2 linked regions of the Homo sapiens genome follow. The protein of the gene in region 1 interacts with the protein of each later gene in a pairwise test. Each region holds a gene or a part of one and is shown on either strand. Other genes may lie near its edges.

Region 1 (11,620 bases):
CCTGACCTCAGGTGATCTACCCGCCTCGACCTCCCAAAATGCTGGGATTACAGGCCTGAGCCACCGTGCCTGGCCTGTTTCAGTTTTGCTTTTTCCTTGTGAAAGCCTTAGGAATTCTTAAATCTTACAAGTTGTAGGAAAAATTACAGATTCCCACTCATAATAGAAGGATGAAGTGGGCCTGTTGCAGAATTTCCAAGTTATTACTTCCTGCAGGTTAATTTTTTTCTAAGACACATAATGAAGTGTAGTTTTCTGTTTCCTTGATTCATTCATTTGAAAGTCTTTTGAGCCTCTCTTTCTTAGAAGCACTGGTTGACTCCAGGTCAGCACTCTCTTAACGTCAGGCCACATTTTGCTTTTCTGAAATATTCCTTGAAGGAACAATGTGGAAGAAACCCACAAATGACAGAATCTCTGGGACCAGTCAGTTCAGCACAGCAGCTGCCTTTTGAGAGGAGACAGTTCTCAGGGCCGTTGGGGGCATGGTTCTTTCTAGTGAGCTAAGTAAAGTGAACTTGCTCCAATGTCGTTATAGACATATGGCACAGGGCTCCTGTTTTGGGGTAGACCTGTCACCCTCTGGACCTCTTCTGGCATTTGACACAACCATAGTTTTGTTGTTGTTATTGTTGTTTTGTTTGTTTGAGACAGAGTCTCACTCTGTCACCCAGGCTGGAGTGCAGTGGTGCAATCTTTGCTCACTGCAACTTCCACCTCCCAGGTTCAAGCGATCCTCCTTTCTCAGCCTCCAAAGGAGCTGGGATTACAGGTGGGTGCCACCACGCCCAGCTAATTTTTGTATTTTTAGTAGAGAGAGGGTTTCTCCATGTTGGCCAGCCTGGTCTCGAACTCCTGACCTCAGGTGATCCACCTGCCTCAGCTTCCCAAAGTCCTGGAATTACAGGTGTGAGCCACTGCTCCCTGCCGACACAACCATAGTTTTTTGCTGGCTTTTTTCCTGGAGAGGGTTTCAGTGTGATCACCACCTTGCCATTCTGCTCTTATCCCCAGTCCCCATCATCCCAAGTTATCTGTACAGCATTAAGCATGAGAAGAATGCTACAGAAATCCAGACGGCCAGGCCAGTGCACACTGCCTCCATCTCAGACAGCTTCCAGAGCATCTTCTCCTATTATGATAACTCGACTATGGTCACCGGGAATGCTACCAGAGACCTGACACTTCATCAGACCGCCACACAGCACATGGTGACCAACGCGTCCGCTGTTCCTTCCGACTGTCCCAGTGAAGACAAAGACCTCCTGAATGAAAACGTGCAAGTTGGTCTGTTGTTTGCCTCGAAAGCCACCGTCCAGCTCATCACCAACCCTTTCATAGGACTACTGACCAACAGGTAGGGCAGACTACTTTAGTCAAAGAGTTTGATATTTGTATCAGTCCTAGCTTATGTCCTTCCTGGAATTCTGCTTCTTACTCATTGGTGAGAGTCTGGAAAATCCATGGTGGGTGAGCTGGGGAAAACCCAGTCCCCTTCCCCTATGTCTCTGTTCCCAGATAACCACAATTTCCTATTCTATTCTCCCTTCTGTTGCTCAACAAGTAAGAAAATATTAAAGAAGACAGAATAAAGAGGACCTCTTCCACCAAGTGGGAGGACTTTGGCCTGTCTAAATGCCAGGTTTCGTAAGTGCATTTGTCAGAATCGCCCTTGGCAGCAGGAACTCTACAGCCACCATGGCTGTCATCCTATTTTATGAGCCATGTGGCCTCCTCTTATCTCCTACCTCAGGCCATGCACTTCTCTGTAGAGAGCCAAGGTGTCTTCTTTTGGAACTGGCATGTTAAAGCCTCTCACAGATACCAGGTAGGGAGTGTGGGAAAAGGTTGGACGCACTGGTGCGCAGATGGAGCTCCGAGTTGATGCCGAGGTCATGGGCTGTGTTCTTCCCTTCTGCTGGCTACGTAGCCACGTCCACGTGCATGAAAGGAAGAGAACTGAGGCTGTTGTCTGGATAATCCAAGCTGCCCAAACTAGCTTCAGATGAATCAGGCTGTTCTAGATTTTTTTGAACCCACATTGTTTGGAATAACTGTTTACTTCTCCATTGTTGGTGAAGTGTTTGTTCTTCTGTAGCTGAGGTGGACCAGTTCTGCCTGGTCCGTGGGGGCTCAAAGCTCAGGACAAGGGCCTTGCAGCTGAGAGGAGGAGGCAGGCCCCCAAGGTGTCAGTGCAAGGAGTGGGAGCTGGTACAGTTAAGTGTTGGTGGTGGGCTGCCAAGTGCGCAGTGTAGCTACCTAGGTGAAAGTTACAAAACACCAGAAATGGTGGGGAGGGGTGTGCCCAGAGTCCTACCTGCAGACCAGGCCCAGAAGCAGGAACAAAGACTAGACTAGAGATGGAAGAGATGGTGGCGAGGAGAGGGTGGAACTAAGGAGGCAGGGGAAACCAGGGCTGGGCTAGGCTGTAAGAGGCCCCAAGTGCTGGGCTGAGAAAGGAGTGGGATTCTGTGTGGGGCAGTTGGGAGCCATTAGAAATTCCAAAGCCAAAAAGAAATGAGTGAATCAAGCACTATTTTAAGCAGGGTAGGTGGGCAGGGAGCAGGGAGAACTTCACATTTCCTCTGCCTTTGGCGTGGGGAGTGGGGCGCAGGACTGGCTGCATAATTTGTGGGTCTCGGTGCAAAATGAAAATGTGTGCCCCACATTCAAACATTATGAAACACTTCAAGGTGGCAGCAGAGCATTAAATCAACCAAGCTCTGAGAGCAGAGCCCTGTGCGACTCTAGGGTTAGGGGCACCGAGAGGTGAGGAAGCCTGGGGTGGTGGCTGGGGCTCAAGGAGGGGATGGCAGATCTGGCCTTCCGCCAGCACAAGCTGCCTTGGACACATGGAGCTTGAGTCGGACAGGAGCACATTCTCAACATCTGCAGTTGAATTTTCTGGATGGAAGGGTGCCATTGAATTGATTTCAACAATCTCAAGCCATGTCCAGCCCTCTAGTCTGTGCAGAGCAATATTCTAAGGCTGCTACATAAAACATGCTAAGCAAATTAACCCAGCGAAGGGCTGACTGTGAGCCCATTAAGAAGGTGACATTCAGTGACTCCTCTGTTCTCAGGAGAAAAACCAAACCGACCTCAGTAGTTGCAGGATTGTTTTCTTTCCTTTTTTCAAGACTAAGAATGCTTCTTAAAATGCATCTGGTATAATTACAGAAAATAGCTCAGGGTTTTGTATTCTGAGAAAGCAAACAGCTCAAATATTGTATGTGAAAATTGAGGACATTATCGTAATAATACCTTGCCAATCACTTGGGTGGAACGTTACTAGCCGTACAGTGTAATACTTAGAAATTCGGCTGAAATGATGTGAGTACTCCAATCTTCCAAACGCAAATGGCAAATGAAAAGCTTTTTTAAAAATCCCATTCTTATTTTTAATGCTTTGCTTATGCCATGGGGAAGAGGCTTGTTTAAAACCAGTGAGCTCTTTCCCCTGTTAAATACTCCAACGGCTTTGAGGCTGTAGCCACACCAGGCTCATGTTTGGGACTTCAAAAACATTATCTTCCATTTTGTGACTTGTGAAATTTAGTCTATTCTCATGGTGAGTAATCCACTTTAGAAATTATCTAGAGCAAAATTGTAATCCCCAACTGTTTTGTCCAGCTACCGAGCAAATTTGAAAATGATTTTCTAGTGCTGCCTGGTAATATGGAAGGACAAACAAATTTTTTTTTCTTTTTTTTTGAGATAGAGTCTTGCTCTGTCACCCAGGCTGGAGTGCAGCAGTGTGATCTTGGCTCACTGCAACCTCCACCTCCTGGGTTCAAGCAATTCACATGTCTCAGTCTCCTCAGTAGCTGGGATTACAGGCGTGCACCACTATGCCTGGCTATTTTTTGTATTTTTTGGTAGAGACGAGGTTTCACCATGTTGGCCAAGCTGGTGTCGAACTCCTGACCTCAGGTGATCTGCCCACCTCGGCCTCCCAAAGTGCTGGGATTACAGGCGTGAGCCACCGCCCTCAGCGAGCAAATAAATTTTCATATTGTGATCCTGATTTGTAATTTGTCTCATAATTTCCAAGCCCAGTAGATATGAATTTGGGGACTGGGCAGCTCTTCTGGACACTCCAAGATTCTGCTTCCCACCGCAGTTCAGATGGATTCAGAGAAGGGACAAATGTGCATTCCATTTGCCTTTAATTGTCTTCAAGGAGTTAACTTGTGAGCCATTGCAAACAGTCTTTTGATGTAAACTGTGCCAATCACATCCTCCATGAGCAAGATGTATGACTCAAGTCTTCAGTGTTGTAAACAAATGTGTTTAAAGGCTTTTTAAAATTGGTTAATATGTTTCTGATTAAAGAGTAGTTAAAAATATGGAGCATCAGAGCTTGCAGAGACTTTTCCTGAAAGCTTTTGGGCCAGTCCTAGCATTTTATAGGCAAAGGAGTTTGCAGTTCAGGAGGAGAAAGCATTTACCACAACAGTGGCAGGACTGTAGCCACATGTTCCGACTGTCCCATTTCAAGCTTTGTTCTTCCCCGCTTCCTGTTCTTCCCACCTGCTTACAATTATACAGCTTGTACCTTTAGCTACTAGAAATAAAGAATGCAGCTCAAAATCTGTCTTTCTTGCACTGACTTGGGCTCTTCCTGGTTGTACCAGGCAGAACTGCTGGAGACCCAGTGAGTTGCTGATTTTGCTACTTTTAATCAATGAGCAGAGAGTTTAGAAAAGATCAGCCTGATTCCTGTGGACATGGAACCTCCCTGGTCCCTGAAATATTCAGTCTTTTTCCAGTCCCTGATGTGAACTGGTCCAGCCTCGTGCATCCCTAAAGATGTGTGGGGAAAGCTTCCTGTAGTCAGGCTGGGCAGAGCTATTCTTTTCCAAAGCTGCTTGTTTTAACTGAAGTGGGACCCACTCTGAATCGAGACATTCTACACCACACCACACCATAACTGGAATCCTCTATTCACAGTCGTGATGGTGCCATGTGTGTGGCTTTTGTGGGTAGGAGTCACAAAATGTAGGCCGCCTGTTTATTTATTTATTTATTTAGACAGGGTCTTGCTCTATTGCCCAGGCTGGAGTGCAGTGGGGCTATCTCGGCTCACTGCAACCTCTACCTCCCAGGTTCAAGCAATTCTCCTGCCTCAGCCTCCTGAGTAGCTGAGACTACATGCCACCATGCCTGGCTAATTTTTTTTGTATTTTAGTAGAGATGGGGTTTCAGCATTTGGCCAGGCTGATCTCGAACTCCTGACCTCAAGTGATCCTCCTGCCTCAGCCTCTCAAAGTGCTGGGATTACAGGCGTGAGCCACCATGCCCGGCCCTGTCTGTTTTTTTTAAATATTCGATAAGTTCTCACACCAAACCCTGAAAATATAGAGTAACAATTCTTGGGTTCATTTAACTGCTAATAGGATGCACATTCTTCCTGTTTCATTTGTTATTCAGATCCTGTATTTCTGCTGAAAATATATGACCAGTTAGGTGGCAAAAACCTTTGATTTGGGTGTGTGTAGTGATGACCTGGCCAATAGCACACTTTCCAAGAAAGCCTGAGGTTGCTGGATTGACCTGATTTCCATGTTGGAACCTCTTGCCTCCTATTTTATAATTTTGGCTGAACTATTCATTTCATGATTGCAGTTGTGTGCAGGTGGTACCAGAAATTATACTAGTGATACTTGGTCATCATTTGGTCTAAGAAGCAAATTTTAGATATATATGTCCATAAGAGGAAAGTTCCAGGCACATGAACAATGGGACAACACGTTTACATTTCTCTCTTCCCTCAGTCAGGTAACGATATGGCATTGTGGTCTTGCTTAGCATAAGGTTGAAATAATAGTTGCATCTTCAGAACCAAAAGATATTCCACACCAAACGACTGGCTTGGGAAAGAGTTAACTTCATTGCTGGGGACCGTTTCCCTTGCTTCCTTCTTAGCTTGTCATTGTCTCAGTGATCTGCTTTTTATCAAGCCAGCGTCAATGGCTTAATTTATTTCCATAGTTACTTAGTATATTTGAAAGCAGTTCTTTTTGCTTGCAAATCTTAGCTAACATCTGAACGACAAGGAGGAAGCCACAGGGCATGAAATCTCTACGAAATCTACCATGGTTTTATTTTATTTTTTTGCTAGCTTCAGCCAGTGGGTCTGAAGTGGGCTGTGTAGGAACAAGCAGTGACCTTTTCAGCTTCTCTATGGACAGGGAAACCGGCTGTTCTGAGAAGAGATCTCCCATCCTGCATGTGGTTAGGATGGTAGGGAGGGCTTGATGAGTCTTTGCTTCTGAAATCAGAGGAAACTGGCTGTGGAATTAGAACATTCCTAGGAGAAGCAAAAGCTCTGTTAAGCTATGTGTCAGAGAACAGGGCTCACGCCCAGGAAAGTGAGAAGTCCGTGCCCCCTGGAATTCTCTGGTAGCTGAAAAAGACAAGCAGAACCTAAGAATTTTGACAAGCGGAATCGAAGAATTTTATTTACTAAATGATTGACAAACCTCCTACTATATCCAGGCAAATTGAAAATATCATTCCATTTACTGACATTCATTTACTGCACACCTTTTAGGAGTGTGTAGGGATCACTGGAAGGGAGCTGTTGTCTCTCGTTGCATCTGGTGATAGTTTGCACCCTTCGGGGCTCTGTAGTCTGTATGCTTCTTGTAATTTACCACGGTAGAGGAAACTGTGGTTTTAGCAATCATGAGAAGAGAGCTTCCATTAGTCTCTATGGCAAGGATAAGCTAATTATTAACACTAGAGAAGTATTGTCTTCATTGACCATTTAGGGACAGATGGGGTTTCTCCAATGACTAAGTATATATAATTAACATAACTTTTATTGTTTTACATGTTTTTCTAGGGATTCATTATGTGATTTTTAGTCTTACTCAAATTGGATTAACTGCTTCGTGATGCTCTGTAGAGGATGACCGTGGGCCAGTATGACATTTGGCTAAAGGTTTGCTGAATCAGATCTGGCTCTGCTTAGCAATACTTTAATTGAGAAGGCCCTGAATTGAGACAAGGGGGGCAACTCAGACACAGATTGTGACTAATGTCAGTTGAGTTTCTGTCTGTTTAGGAGATACTGTGGGGAAGCAGAAAGGGTTTGGTCCTTCTGCCCACCACTCAATGACTAGGGACGCTGGACGACTCTCCTTCTATGGTGGGTGCCCGAGGGGCCAGAAGAGTTTGAGAACGGAGACCCAGGAGCTTCCCAGGGAGTCTTCTTTGCCTTGAAGCCGAGCTCTGGGGAAAAATGATGCCCAGCGCTTACCACTGAGCAGCCCATGCAGTGGCTTGGCCTGTGTTGAAAGTGCAGGCACAGGTGTGTCCGGTACTGAGGAGGCGGCAACATGAGCCTGGTTGTATCTGAAGCCATTGGCTTGCTCTGCAGCCATGGGTGAGCCACTCTGTCTCTGAACCTCAGCTTTCTCATCTAAGGTGAGGGTTTGGACTGGCTAGCCCTTGAGTTTCCTTCTAGCTGTGATATTCGTTTATTCCATACGTGCATTGTTAAAATCCCAAAGAAAATTAAAAAGAAAAACAGTAGCTGCAGTGTTTCTAAAGAAAACACAGTACCTCAAATGGTAAAAAGAACCCTCTGTAGGCACAAACGCTGTGGTTTTCAGTGAAACTGTGCACTCTCCATCCCATGTGCTCCAGCGTCCCCACCCAGGTGCACATCAGCAGGGCCTAGCACATGTTAACACACTCAGGGTATGCCCGTAGCCTTGAATTTGGGGCAAGTAATTCACCTCCCCGAGCCTCAGTGTTGATCCTCTGAAAAATGGATAAAACCAGCTACCCTCCCTTGGAATCTCAGGCCACCCAGCATGCTGGTTCCCTGCCTACAGTCGTGGGAATGTCTGAGTCTTCAGGTAGGGAGGGACCTCAGTGGCTTCCAGCCCACCACAGCTGTGCCCTGATGGGTTACCTGGAATACTGGCTGGACTGAACAGTGGGCACAGTATGGCTGGTGGTTTGGGGGCCACAGACAAGGGTTGCCACATTTTATTGAGTTTTGTCCTGAAACCACCCAGTGTTTCTGCCTACAGTCTGGGAAAGGGCCACAGATGTCTTATTTGCCTTCAGGGATGTCCCTGCAGCCTGAAGGGTTCCATATTAGAGCCTTATAAATAGCCAAAATGAAGAACTGGTGAAACAAGAGTGAAGCCCCTAATTCCAATAGCTTTGATACGTATTGGTACTTCAACAACTAGATTTTCCAAATATATATTGAACAGAGGGAGAAGCCTGTGTTTATTCCAGGACAGCCCGGAAGATTGTCATATGCCCGTTCTTTCATGGGACAAACTGTAGTTGCTGAAAATAAATTGCCTGTGAGTTCTCCTCTCTGAGCCTCCTGGACGTTTCCTGATTCAGTATCCTGCAGTGCCGTGTGAGCCCCCGGTGTTGGGTTTCTTTTGTCCACATGAATAAGGGGTACAGAGAATCAGCTCTGGGTGGGCTGAGACAGAAGAAGCTGTCACCCGATGGCCATCTGAACTGCAGGTCAGAATCCTGGCATCTTCTCTGGTTTACCCAATTTGCTTGGGGCCCCACTTTGTGAATTACAAGCTCATCTCTGTTCACAGCAGGGGAATCTTTGCATGGTTTGTGGGAGGGGACTGACTGTCTGGGAATCTGTCATGCTTGTGAGTTACTCTCTGTATTTTTGGTATTTGGTTTCTGGATACAGGTGAAGCAGTTAAAAAATATTTGAATATGGTCAAGAGAACTTTTGGAAAGATTCTATTTAAAGCTATATATGCCGTTTGGGTACTGGCGGAGGTGGTAAAATTTACAAGGAAAAGCCATGTGGGAATGGCCCAGGCGAAATTAGTCTGATGACATCTGATAAGTAATGACAGATATCATGCCTCAGTTTCCTCATCTGTAACATAGGGAGGTGAAATAGGGCCCTTATTAAATCATGACTAAATCTGGTGGGTGTAAATGCTTGGAGAACTGAGTGTAAACTTTAAATGAAGGCGCTATGATTATTTTTTATTTATTTATTTACTTTTGAGACAGAATCTCGCTCTGTCACCCAGGCTGGAGTGCAGTGGCATGATCTCAGCGCACTACATCCTCTGCCTTCTAGGTTTAAGCAATTCTCGTGCCTCAGCCTCCCAAGTAGTTGGGATTACAGGTGTGCACTACTATGCCTGACTCATTTTTTGTATTTTTTTTTTTTTTTTTTTTTTTTTTTTTAGTACAGACAGGGTTTTGCCATGTTGCCCAGGCTGGTCTTGAACTCCTGAGCTCAGGTGATCCGCCCACCTCGGCCTCCCAAAGTGCCAGGATTACAGGCATGAGCCATCATGCTCAGCCGATTACAATTTTTTATTAAAGCCTGGAATGGAAGAACCCTTCCAGGCTGTTGCCAGAGCTCAGGATGCTTGGCCCTTCTGCCTTCCTGGATTCATTTCATTCCTCTCCAGGTTCCTGAGGGTCCAGAGCTAGAGACAGAAGAGACTTAGAGATGTTTCAGGCTCTTCTGGGTTGGAGCAAACCTTCAATTGGGCAAGAGCTCAGCCACTGTTGGCTTCCTCTCAAGGCAGAGGGGCTGGGAAGCTGCCTGTACCCTCATGCCCCACCCACAGAGCAGGGACCCAGCTGTCTACTTAATCCAGCAGAAACAGAGGACAAAGAAGAAAGAGAATGAGGGAGGAGATGACATTTCTTAGGCACCTTCTATGCTCTAGGCACTGGTGTTAACAGTTTAACATCCATATCTCTTTCTGTACTCCAGTCCTGGGAGGTGGGCGGTGGTCTCTCCGAGGGACTGAGAGGAGACCTCCCTAGATTAAGTGGCAGGGTCATGTGTCCAGCCAGACATGGCATAGGGGAATGCCAGGGTCTTTCCACCAGCCCTGTTGACCTGGCGCCAGAGTCCTAGGTGAGCAGTGGTCTCACGGAGCAATTTGGATTTTGAAATTTTGCACAGAAAATGAGACTTTGTCTTTCTGGGTTGGCCTCATGGGGTCAACAGGAAGGCAGATCTTAACATCTTGCTTCCTAATGCCTCTTAGACATACTGCAGTCTGCCAGTGGAATCACTTGATGGCCTTTTACCCGAATCATTTGATTGCAGTGGCTCCTTTGGGAGAGCTTTAGCAAAGACTATAATTAAAGGAATCATTTTTTAAAAATGACAGAAATAGGGGCCGTGTATTTTGGATGTGTTCTGGGTTACTTGCCAATATTGTGTTAACATTTATTCCAAACAAATTTCTGTTCACAGTGGCAGTCCATAAATGTATTCACGTTCCAAGACAGTCAAACACAAAAAGGTCACATAGGAAGCACTGAGTATATGAATTTTCAGAAAAGTCCACCAAACACTTATCTGTCTGATCCCAAAGGGTAGCCAGGCGAAAATCAATATAAAGCCTTAAAAAAATAGCCTGCAGTCACCAGATTTGTCTGATGTTTGTGTTTTGCAGAATTGGCTATCCAATTCCCATATTTGCGGGATTCTGCATCATGTTTGTCTCAACAATTAGTAAGTGTGTGGTGTTTTCCTTCTGAGTGTGGGTCTCATCAGGGTGGGCATTGATGCCCATGAGCCGGGAATTAACAATACAACCTAAGGACGGCGGGGGGGCGGGGGGGGTCGTGGTTGGCTCATGCCTGTAATCCGAGCACTTTGGGAGGCTGAGGTGGGCGGATCATCTGAGGTCAGGAGTCCGAGACCAACCTGGCCAACATGGCAAAACCCCGTCTCTACTAAAAATACAAAAGGTAGCCAGGTGTGGTGGCATGCACCTATAGTCCCAGCTACTGGGGAGGCTGAGGCAGGAGAATCACTTGAACCTGGAAGACGGAGGTTGCAGTAAGCCGAGATTGCACCACTGCACTGCAGCCTGGGCGACAGAGCAAGACTCCATCTCAAAAAAAAGTATATGGCCTGGGAGGTTTGTGTATTGGCAACAATTGCAGAAAGGAATTGATAGCTTTTTACGGAACAAAAGCACAGGGTGGCTAACATGCAAATGCTCCACTGGGTTAAGGGGGGCTTCTGAAACGTTCCTGTTTGGGACGGTTGTGTCCCAGCAGCACTGATGTGCGGTCTTGGACCCCCTCTCTCGGCAGTGTTTGCCTTCTCCAGCAGCTATGCCTTCCTGCTGATTGCCAGGTCGCTGCAGGGCATCGGCTCGTCCTGCTCCTCTGTGGCTGGTAGGTGTGGAATGCCTGAGTGAGTTCGTGAGGGGCCCCTTGCAGAGTGAGCTGGACTCATTCAGGGAATTCAGGTATTGGTGGTGGTTGGGGTGCTGGGGATTCTTGGAGAAGGCACCCACTTTCCTCTTGGGTTCTGCTTGGTCTTACATTTTAGTGAATCTGACAGGTTTGGGAAGATCACAAGGCTGGCTGGAGAGGGAAGGCGAGTCACGCATTATTCTTTTGCTGTTCCCCGGAGCTGGCCTGTTGACTATTTCTTTCCCTGTGTAGGGATGGGCATGCTTGCCAGTGTCTACACAGATGATGAAGAGAGAGGCAACGTCATGGGAATCGCCTTGGGAGGCCTGGCCATGGGGGTCTTAGGTGGGTAAGGCCCCCGTGTAGGCAAACTGGCAAGAGGGGCCTGCCTGGTGCTGGACAGCGGCAGTCCTCGCCCAGTGAC
Region 2 (11,620 bases), on another chromosome or scaffold:
CAGCCGCAGGGGTGATGACATGGCCATTTCCAAGTTAATGTTATGCCCTAACTTAATCTGGTGGAGTGTCACAATTTCATGGACTGTGGATTGATTTCAATTTCATCATGTCACAGAGAGGCCAGACAGCTTATGTCAGGGCCAGAAACGCATGACCCCGACATGTCCTGACCCCAGACTGAGCTGCCACCAGCCTTGAGAACCTTACAGGAGCCACCAGACTGGCTCCAAAGCATGGGAGGGCAAGACTGAGTGAACGGTGGCGACTCACAGGAAACAGACTTCTGACTCGGCCACCATGGGGCCAGTCCTGCAGATACTGTCTCATGTTCCAGTTACTCAGGACACAGCCAGTCGGGGGAGACGGCAGGAGCAGCAAGAACTGGCCCAGGCCTGGAGGCCGTGAGCTGAAGGTCCCTGGTTTACATGCATGTGCACACACATGCATAAGCAAAGCAGGCCCTAATGGGAGTGATCCCTTCTTCCTCATTTGAGTGGAGCCAGCTGCCCTCAGCCCCGGGCAGCTGTCATGGTGTCAGAGCAAAGCCCTGAGAAGCCAAGGGGCAGGCAGGGTCCGGCCCTAATGACCCATCTGAATGCAACCGGAGAAGGACAACAGGCCTGATTTTCCTTTTTAAGTGCACTACTGTCATTTGGCTCTGGGGTGGGGAGCTGCTGGGGACACACTGTTTTGTGGTACTCATCTGGCTTGATTGCTGGGTGTCTGGGGCTGAGCGGGAAGATGGCTGCGAAAGTTTGGAGTATGCACAATTTCAATCCCAGAACAGTCCCCGGGAGGAAGGCCTGGTTCCCAAGATAAGGAGAGAAGGTGACCTCCGTTCTGCCTGAGGCTGCGGCAGCTCGGGGCTGAGCTGGTAGGGGAGGAACTGCTTTGTTCAGAGAAGTGAGGAGACACAGTGGCCAGCCGCAGCCTAGTGGCCCCGGCCAGGCAGCTGTCTGGAGGTGACCAGGGCCCGGAGAACCGGCTGCAGAGCCGAGGGTGGGCTGGGGCTGCAGGTCAAGTAATTGCACCTTTGGCTGCAGTGAGGGTGTGGACGCAGGTGGTTTCTGTTGCACTGGTGGGGAGGGTGGGGTGCCTCCCGGTCCTCTGGGGGCGTCCCTCGGGGCTGCTGCCACCTCCGGGGGGCGGGGCTGTGCGTCACTTGCACTGGTCCAAGTTGCCGTCAGGAGTCCTTGCTTGGTCGGCATCCAGGGACGCCTCCTCGCTGTGCCACAGGCCATAGCCAAAGTAGATGATGAAGCCTGCGGGCCGACAGCAGAGACGGGCGTGAACAGACCGCCGGTTGCACCACCGCAGGCAGGGCTCAGAGCCCAGGGCGGTCCCACAGCAAACCCTCTCAGGCGGCCTGCCCCTGCCTGGCATGAGCCCGCAGCCAGCGGCCCCTGTGACCTTTCCACATCTGGAGCAGCTGCCACACGAAGGCCACTGTCTGCTTCGACATCTGGCAAAGCCCTACGTTCCTCTGGACGGCCTTATGCTGCGGTGTTTCCTGAGCAGACAGAGCAGCTGGGCCAGGGCCACCAGAGGCCATCGGGTCCTTCAGCTTAGCCCCCTGATGCCCCCGGAGGCCACGAGAGTATCGAGAATGTGCACTATGGAGATGGGGTTTCCCGCAGGTGCTGGAGGTCTCCAGGCTCTCAGCCTGGACAGTCCCACTGCCCATTTCTCCACATAACTGAGCGTCAGACTGCAGGAGACACTGAGCCCCAGGAATGGACTTCACATAGGAGTCCACAGCCTGTTCCTGCACACGGGACTCCAGGGTGGGTCCAGGACCTATGCTTCTTACCACCTGCCCAGGGGCTGGGGCCACCTTGTGTGGCTGACACAGGAAAACAGGCCTTAAAGCAAGGACTCAGCCACCCACAGCCCAGGAAAGGAGCTCAGGCTCCTGCACACAGGGACTTTGACAGGGATGCTGGGAAGAGGCGCCCCTCTGCCTTCACCAGGCCTGGAGGAAGTGGCCAGTGAGCTGTGAGCAGCTTTTTCTCAGAAAGGCTCTAGGAGACGTCTGTCTAACAGGCTGGACTTTGCAGGGAATGAGGACCCACCCGGCTGCCAGCAGACAGTGGGCCGCAAAGTATTTCCTGGAGGAAAAGCACCCCTCGAGGGCCCTGGGAGATGAGGCAGCAGCCATCTGCCCGTAGCATGCAAACTCAGGGCTGCGAGGCTGTAGGGACATGGTCCTGAGGGGCAATGGCCAGGGCCACTTTCCTGGCTATCAGCACTATGACTCAGATGCTGAGGGGAAGGAAATGAGATCCTCCCCTCCAGCCCCTGGGGTGAGATGCCCAGAGGCGTGGGACTACAGGCTGCACCCACCCCTGGTGATCTATCTCATGTGGAAGCTCCCCACCCTAGTGGCATCTCCCATAGGCTCCAAAGCACTCTCCCTCCACAGAGAAGACGCAATCACAGAGGAGCCCATGACATCCACCCTGCCTGGGCCTAGTGCCCGTACCAATTTGGTGCTGGGCAGGCCAGGGGGCCAGGAGGCACAGGCCAGACTTTCCTGTCTGGGGTGAAAATAACTGGTACCTTATCTGCAGCAGACTCATCACCTTGTTCCTGTTAATATCAAGGTCTTGCCCAAAAGAATAAATAGTTTGGACAAGAAGCAATGGAAACAAAAAGTATCTAACAGGGAGGAGAGGACTCACAGCCTACCAGGGATTCAGCATTATCTTCGAGAAAGCTGCTGACTGGATGTGCGTCATTCTGTTATGAAATCTGAAACAAGGGAGACCCCCAGGGGAAGCCAGGATCTTGGACGTGCTGGCAGCAGCATCACATACCTATCAGCATCCACACAGCAAACCGGACCCAGGTGCCCTGGTCCAGCTGCATCATGAGATAGACGTTCACGAAGATGCTCAGGATGGGGAGCACTGGCAGGAAGGGAACCTGAAGAGACAGGAGGTGGCTTCAATCCATGGCAGTGGCGCCGGTTCCAATAGTTCAGTAAAACTGTCTAGTAAAGGCAGCACAACTGAGAGTGACAGGGACCGTCGGGCGAGTGTGGGGAAGAGAGAGGGAGTGCCCACCCCCACTCCCACACCCCACACACAGCCCGCACCCAAACACACACACAAACACACCCAAGGGTACATCTTAGTAGGTGGGGATTTGATTCTAAGCTCTGAATGGCCAAATGAACTCCATTCTCATTTTTCTCTGTTGCGATTCTCCTGCTAAAGAAAGGACTAGAAGACGGACCTCCACTTTACCTCTAAGGTCAACAACCTTTTTTATTATTTGTGTAATCTAAAAATGCAGAAGCCTTGCCCGTCTCCAAGGCTTGGAAAACTCATGCATCAACTTGAGCAGACATTTACGAGAAGCATCCCACCACCCCGGAGGGACTGCTCCACTGGGTCTGCTATTATGTATAAACTTAGGGGCAAGTGGCTTCATGAGCAGCACCCTTGATACTGTCTGGGGAAGAGGCAGCACATTTCATAAAACACTGATCACAAGGGACATTTATTTTCCAGAGAATTCAGAAATAGATGCCGAATATCCAGGGACTGGCGAGGTCTCTCTTGGCCTGTGTCATGCAGGAAGGTGTCAGCCTGCCCTTGACTACTCAGGGAAACGTCCAGGGGAGAAGGGCTGCTGCCTCCTTCCAGGGTCTGGTCCTCTCTGTGCCTTCAGGACCCCTGCCCCATCTTACCTGAAGCTGGCTAGCAAAAACCTTCCTCGGGAGCACCCAGGCCCGGCTGAGCCCACGCAGGGCTGGCCAGGCATCAGGAGGGCCAGGGTCTGTGTACCAGGGTTCCTTCCCTAGGCCGAGCTGCTCACCTTAAATGAGAGCTTGGTCTTGCTCTCGGGCTGCCTCCAGATGACGCCCGTGACCACGGCACAGAGGAGGGCAGACCCTGCGAGCAGAAAGACTGCCCACAGCGCCCCTTTGGTGAGAGCCTCCCTTCCAAGCACGGTCACAATGCAGAAGGTGATGATGAGAACAGCTAAGGGGGAAGGAAAAGACAGCAAGCTGCAACTCAACCATTTCCCAATTTCCCACAGGCATCCACTGTTCTCCCCTAAACTTGTGGAGAGAGAGGCTCCATTTCCGAAGGCACAACTACAGTTAACACAGAGTAACTATGTCCCAGTCCAGGAGCAAGACAGATGCTCATCTTCTCTGGCACCTTCCCCCAACTCCAGCTCCACTGCCTAGAAACCATGCAATGCCAACAAGCAAGGCCCCAGGGAAGGGCTAGCTCTTACCTATGAGGCTGGTTGAAATGTTCACAATTAGCCCAGAGATTTTGGAAGGCTCCATGTTTTTGGGTGAGAGTATGGTTTTCAAAGAGAACATCTCTGCCTCTGGTAAAAAGCCCAGCTGGGAATCATTGGTGCTTGCCAATTCATTTTGGTCTGCTGGATCTAACTCGTCGGAAGTACTGGCCATCTGGTATACCAGGTTAGGCTGCTCTGGCTGGTACCTGGGAAGAAAGGCATTGCGTGACCGCCACATCTGCTTCAAGCAAAATGACGTGCACCAACTCAAGTTCTCAATAAGCCTCCAAAGTGAGCTGCCCGGGACACAAGGTATAAAATGGGAAGGATATAGTCAAATGCTGCATTGTAGATAGACGAGGAGAGACCGGGAACACCACCTCCCGCTGTTGCTTCTGGGGAACATCCTCCATGGTCTCTCCTTCGGGGCGACATGACCTCCACCATGAGCAGCCCAGAGGAATACCCTGAGAGGATCTCTCTTGCTCTGAGAAGTGGCAGCGGCCCTCAGATGCTAAAGATACTAGGCCACTTCCCACAAAATTACTGCTGTAGGGAGCAAAAGGGAAGGAGAGAAATAGGAAGCAGTAATGCCAGGATCCTATTTGGCACAGAGAGCCAGAGAAATGTGGCTGCAGGCTAGATGGATTTGAGAAATTCTATTTGTGTGACTTAATTGGATCAATTTATTTTAAAACTCCAAGTACCTTAGGGTAAATAATTCTATGTGGCTTGTTGGAGGGCCGAGCCTGCAGCGTGATTTCCAAGACATGAGCTACCTGCTAGTGGAGCATCCATTCTGAATGAGGTGCCTTATCTTCCCACCCGAAATGAACAGAGTGCAAATCTTTTCCACCAGCTTTGAAACACAGAGTTCTGTATGAATTATTTTGCATATGATCAATTCTAAGAGGGAGTATAAAGATATTAACCATTTTTGTATGGATTCACTTGTGCAACCCCACTCGGTCAATTAAGAAAGTGGGAGACCTCAGAGAATATTCTAGCATTGGGCCCCTTGGGAGGAATAAGGGGTCCCCAATAGTCTTAGCTGATTCTAAAGAGCTTCTGCTAAGGCTCAGCCCGGGTTTTATGTGCATCAGCTGCTGAACACCTTGGAAATGCAATCAATGGCCTTGCAGGTGGGAATCCCTGAAAAGAAATGAGGAGGCTCTTGAGGGGAGACCAGTGCTGAGCGTCTCCATGAGCACAGGTTCTCAGGATGGAAGCTGCGCAGGGATGTGCTTTGGGAGTGGGTGCTGAGGCAGGTGAGAACACCGAGACACCAAGCCTAGGCCCAGAGCAGCTTTACTGTGACTGGGAGAGGCTTGCCTGGCCCCCACCAGGCTATAACAAGCTGACTCCACAGTGTCTCTGAACATCAACCTAGGGCACGCCATGCCACATAATGGGATTCATTCCTCCAGCCACAGCGCAACGAAGCTGCAGAAGCATTATGCTGAGCTGGGTTTCACAGGCCTTGGGTTTTCCTAACTCCTACCAGGGCAGCCCTCAATCCTCTCTGTCCCAAGAATCTGAACCAAGTTGCAATCAGTCTTCAAACCTTCTGATCCCAGGATCCTGGCCTAATAGTTGGACCGAGAATCTGTCTCTATCCACCCAACATTTAGCCATAAAAATGAGGGCACATGATAGAGGGGGGTGAGGGGCCACCCAACTCTTGCCAAGGACGTCCTCCTAACTGGGCTCTCAACCCAGGTCCTCCCCTCTCCTTGGCAGCTCCCAATGGAGCTATCACCAACCTAAAAGTTTCATTCATCACATAAACCATAGCTGAACTGTGAAAAGGCTACCAGGTGCATCTGCATTTCTGTCATGAGACCCCCAAAAGCCATACATACCGTAAGACCAACACACAGGCAGCCACCAACGAGTAAGCCAGGAGAGTGCCAATGGACATGAGGTCCACCAAGTCCTTCAGGTCAAAGAGGAAGGCCATCACAGCTGGGAAGAGACAGACACCAGGATCTGTGGAGGGCCATCTGCATGCAATGACAACCAGGACCACCACTGCCGCCCACCATCCAGGGCAGCGAAGGGGGCTGCTTTTACTCCCACCCCCTCCCTGGCCTTCCCATGGAAAGACACAGCTTAAAGGGAAGTCAAGCTTCCCTTTAAGCTTGTGATTAAATCACAGACACAGTCCTCAACAGACAGTAATCATCATTAACATTTGTATAGAGAATCCCTTCATTCTTGTGATTTTAATGGCAACTTTGTAAGCCATCCCTACATTATAGATATAAACATTCACAAAGGTTAGGAGACTCATCTAAGGTCACACAGTTCACAAGCATAGGGTATAAGGATGTGAACTGGGTTCTTATGACTCTGAGTCCTGTGTGTCTTCCTCTAGACCATGCTGATTCACAGACTCATGTGCATCCATCCATCATCCATCCTATCGGTCCATCCATTCTCCATCAATCCATCTGTCCACCTATCTTCCATTCATCCACTCACCATCCATCCATCAATCCATCTCATCCATCTGCCCATCTCCCATCCATCTCATCCATCTATCTATCCATCCATCCATTCATCCATCCGATCCACCCATCCATCCATTCAGCATCTATCCATCTACCCATCTTCCATCCATCCAGCTCCGGTCAGAGTGTGCCCATCATTGGGTTCTAGGTACTCACTATTGAACAGGGCAGACCACAGTCCCCAGCCTTCCTGAGTGTACCCCACCAAGACACAGGCATTAGTGGACAACAGTGCTGGGTGATAAAGAAGGGCAAGTCTGGTGCTCTGGGAGGACTCACAGGAGGTCCTAACCCAGGCAGGCGGGCAGGAGAGCAGAGTTCTTCACATGTGAAGTCACTTCACGTGGAAGAAATCTGAAGAGTTGTTCTCAAACAATATAGTATCAGCCCCTTCACTGTGTCCCTTGCCTTTAAAATGAATTAAAACCTGCACCCTTATTTGAACATCTTTTGTGAGCGTTGTGAGAGTATACGTGTCTATTCACATGGGTGTGTATGTCAAGTACTCATTAAAAAACAACTTGGCTACATCTGCTTTGGGATATTTTCAAAACACATGCAATCAACACAAGCTAAAATATAAACACAAAGCCATTATTTTTCCACAAATATCTCTCAAGCCCCTCTAGATCACTGCAACTAAAACAAATTTAAATGGAGAATAAAACACAAAATTAAAGAGCAATGAGGGAGGGCCTTTTGGATAATCAGAACAGCGCCCAACTGTGCATGCCACAAATGCCGATGTTCCTACTCACGGGAAACTTGAGACTAATTTCTTCCATGTGAGGTGATTTTAGAAAACCAAATACTTATTTACCACTCCCACCAAATGAAAAGGGTAAATCCTGGATTTTGTGAATGGCATGTACTTTACAGTCACTTCAAAGAGCATGATTTGATCTCCCTCTATCAGCAGGGGAAGGAAATTAAGGCCAGTCTTTAATATGATCAAATTCCACGTAAAGCCTGAGAAAACAATGACTATTTCCAAGTCCTTAATCCTGTAAATATACTGGTCACATTCTGATGTATAGTGCCTCTCAATCTGACCACTGTGGTCACTCTCAAGAGCATAGAATCACATAAGAAAATGTTTCATAATTTAAAAATAGGTGTGTTTTATTATACAATATTAATCCACAAAACTAAGCACAGTTTGCTAAAGGCATAAATGCTAATAAAACTTAGTGAATAATTCATTCATTTAAGAAGGTCAAGTGCCTTACCAATGGCTATTTGACAAGTCGCTGTGTTAGAAACTGTGACTGATCTCACATGCCCTAATTTGCCAAAAAGACCCACTGCTCTGCTCAGACTCTGGAAGGAGCTTGGCTACTTTGGCATAAAAACAACCCTGGAATCACAAGGCCGCTCCACCGCCCTGGGTGCACATCCTCGCTTCACCTCCCTGGGCCTCCACTTCTACATCTGTACAGTGGGCTGACGTCTGCCTTTTGGGGCTACGAAATGCAATTGCGAAAGGGGCGGGCGTCTGCCTCTCGGGGCTATGAAATGCAATCGCGAAAGGAGGAGACATAGACCACAGGTACAGTGTGCACACGAGCTTCCTTGTAGGTTCTCCTTTCCTTCATCTGGGGCCCTGGAACACCTACACGGCTCAGATTAGTCCACTGATTTCATCCATCAAAATGGTCCTCTCAGCGATGAGGCTCATCTGACAAGATGAAACTCCACTGGGTCTGCTATTACGTATAAACTTAGGGGCAAGTGGCTTCATCAGCAGCACCCTTGATACTCTCTGGGGAAGAGGCGGCACATTTCATAAAACACTGATCATAAGGGACACTTGTTTTCCAGAGAATTCAGAAATGGACGCCGAATTTCCAGGTACTGGCGAGGTCTCCCTTGGCCTGTGTCATGCAGGAAGGTGTCAGCCTGCCCTTGACTACTCAGGGAAACGTCCAGAAATGGGGAGAAAAGGTTTTCGAATACTGTGTGTTCTAAGCTCCGCCCATTGAGATGAAAACCAGAGTGCAAACTGTTCAAAAATTCTCTCCCATCCTCTGTCAAACGGGCCTCTGCCTTTTGTCAAAAGGTCAGTCAACTTTCAATGAACCAGGCTCCAAGTATAAAAACCAGGAGTTAAAAAGACCAGTTAAGATTACTCACAGACCAGAACTGCGCAAGACGTCTCCCTAGGGAGTAATGACTCCATTGTTAAAACATTTCCATGTGAAATGAGTTCTAGTACTCACCAGCAACGGCACCCGAGGCTAATGTGGCGATTATTGGTGTTTTGGTCCTATCATTGACGTTGGCTAAGAATTTAAATAGCAGTCCATCCTCAGCCATGGCATAGATAACCCGAGGCATGGGAAACATGGAACCTAGAAGACTAGATGGGGAGAGGCAAACCGCGTGAGTGAACCTGGCTCATAAGGGATAAAGGCACCACATCCAGCCATGCTCGGTTTACCACGGAGGAGAGGGAGTCTGAGCTCACCAAGAGCTGCCGTCCCTCCACGCTGGGTGAGGCCTGTGGCTAAAAGACTTGGCATTTAATAAATCAATCCCAGAAAGAGCACACACTGTGAATAAGGATTAAGGTAAAGAATAGGGAACATCTATCTAACATACACTAGCATGAGACCCAGTACAGTCTTTACAGATGGAAAACTGTATTTATTCCTGCAATTATTTCTAGCTGAATCAAACAGAAAATACAAGCATCACTGCATTCATGAAGATTTCCCTGTGGTAAATCAATATTTACCAAATAGCTCTGTTTATACAGGCTAAGAGGAAATACGATTGGTGAAAATGTTTCTCATTAAAAGGCACTTATTCCCTTCATCAAAGTAGCTTCTGCATGACAGCTAAACTGAGGGCCAAAATATGGTGTTCAAACAGCGGGCCTGTTCCAGTGGCCAGATTTAGGGACAGAGAACCAGTCCCTTGCTAAGCAGATGATGCTGAAAAGCCAGCCTCAGGTTCTTCTCAATAACACAACTCTTGGGATGATGAATACTGGCCAACAAGGGAAAAGCCACATGATCAAAGCTGGGTTGGGTACTGGGTCTATTTCAAGGGTAAAGAATGCTGGCAGCCGATGTGTGTCTCGCATGGCTGTACCTGGCCTGCTATAGCCTAACCCCTGCTGGTGGTTCCACCCCTAGGAGCAGCCACCACAGAAAGGCCTCTCACCTGGCGGAAAGAGCGCAGAGGGAGCCCACGGCCACTGCGTACTTGGCACCTTCCCAGCCCACGTGCTTAAAGGCGTCGGGCAGGGGGCTGTTATTGTCCAGGCAGAAGTAGGGCATCATGAGCGTGAGGGCAGCCGACACCCCAAAGTAGGCGATGAAGCAGATCAAGAGGGACGCCACGATCCCCACGGGGATGGCCTTCTGTGGGTTCTTCACCTCTTCACCTAGAAGCACAAGGGGTCAGCGGAGGAGGGCACACAGCAAGAGGCAGTGTATCTGCCCACATGACACCCAAGGCCTCTCAGTGCCCCGGAACCCACGTGACCCTACGAGAAACCTCCCTCCAGCACTCAGCCCTGTGGGCACTGGGGCCTCCTGTGCTTCCGGGAGCAGAGGGGTGGTGCTCAGGAAGACACATCAGACAGCCCATGGCCCTGCAACAGTGTTCTCGGCCTGAATGTGGTGATGCAGCCAAGGAAGAGACTTGTTTCCTTTGGCAGAGAAAATCTGGGAGGCTCACTGAAGCCTGGCCTATTCAGTCCGCCAGGATGACAATGTTGTGAATAGCCTCACTCCTCCCGGAAGACGCTCAGATATGAAATCAGGCCACAGCCACACAGCTATGATCCCATTCTAACAGCGGAACCTTAGCCTTATTCAAGATCCAGCTTTCATCAGGTGTTGACAGTTGGGGATGTGATAATGGTTTGGGGGTGGGAGGGCTTGGCAGGAAGCTACAAATCTACATGTTGCTCATGTGTGAAAGAGCGGCGACTGGACCGTGCCAGCAAGGAGGGAAATGGCAAGCATTGGCTTGTTTGCCCAGGGTGCAGGAGGACCCGGGACCGCAGTGGCTGGCGGACATACCTGTGGTGGCGATGCAGTCAAAGCCCACGAAGGCATAGAAGCAAGTCGCTGCCCCCGACAGGACACCAGAGAACCCGAAGGGCATGAATCCACCAACACCGGGCTTCCCTTCTTTTGTGTCACTAGAAAAAAGAGCCGCAAACAAATGTCACGTCACTCGCTGCGCAGTCTGGCGTAAGGAGCTGTGCTCATCTCCTGATATGAGCGGAACCTGGCAGTCAGCCCTCCCTGTTACCGCTGCCAGGCCCTGGGCTTCAGACGCTGAGTCCAGCCACTGCATGCTAACTCCGTGTGTGCAGGCCTCCCTGCTGTTCGTGGCCCAGGGTCACAAGGGTGCAGAGTATCGCCCCTTCCAGAAGCATCTTCTAAACAATGACTAGGGTAGGGAGACGTGGGGACTATGAGGCAGGGGTCCAACAGGAAATGGGGGAGAAACCAGCCACGCGGCCAGTCCCACACCCTTCTCCCCAGGGCCCCTCGGAGGAAGGATGCAGAGCCGCCAGCCAGTCCTACCCCGGGTCCCATATTTACCAGTAACTCAATCTCAAAACAAACAATTCCAGAGAAACTAAGGCTAAAATAAAAGTCTTTGTCAGCAAAGGCATTCCTTAACTGCCTGTATGCACAAGGTGGAGTCCAGGAGGGCGCAGCTTTTGCCAGGTGTGTGGGGCCCGGGCACAGCTGGGCACTGGCCCACGGGAGGGGCTCAGCACATCTTTGCTACACTGATGAACGCAAAAGCAAAATAAGCACAGTTTACAAACTCAGGAGTCCAGAAGAAGCAGGCTGCTTAAACATTCAGAAAACAG

The links.
Region 2: the proteins of SLC18A2 (region 1) and SLC7A1 interact in binary tests that used the Homo sapiens proteins (3 or more experiments, as listed by UniProt).

The regions. Positions count from the first base shown.
Region 1 is NC_000010.11:117,242,957-117,254,576, forward strand, and holds part of SLC18A2 (synaptic vesicular amine transporter), read left to right. Parts: intron 1-1,014; coding exon 1,015-1,357; intron 1,358-10,442; coding exon 10,443-10,501; intron 10,502-11,091; coding exon 11,092-11,175; intron 11,176-11,448; coding exon 11,449-11,541; intron 11,542-11,620. UniProt on the Homo sapiens protein: Electrogenic antiporter that exchanges one cationic monoamine with two intravesicular protons across the membrane of secretory and synaptic vesicles.
Region 2 is NC_000013.11:29,513,321-29,524,940, forward strand, and holds part of SLC7A1 (high affinity cationic amino acid transporter 1), read right to left. Parts: intron 10,934-11,620; coding exon 10,812-10,933; intron 10,169-10,811; coding exon 9,946-10,168; intron 9,137-9,945; coding exon 8,997-9,136; intron 6,230-8,996; coding exon 6,127-6,229; intron 4,471-6,126; coding exon 4,253-4,470; intron 3,991-4,252; coding exon 3,824-3,990; intron 2,927-3,823; coding exon 2,818-2,926; intron 1,264-2,817; coding exon 1,160-1,263; 3' UTR 1-1,159. UniProt on the Homo sapiens protein: High-affinity, low capacity permease involved in the transport of the cationic amino acids (arginine, lysine and ornithine) in non-hepatic tissues.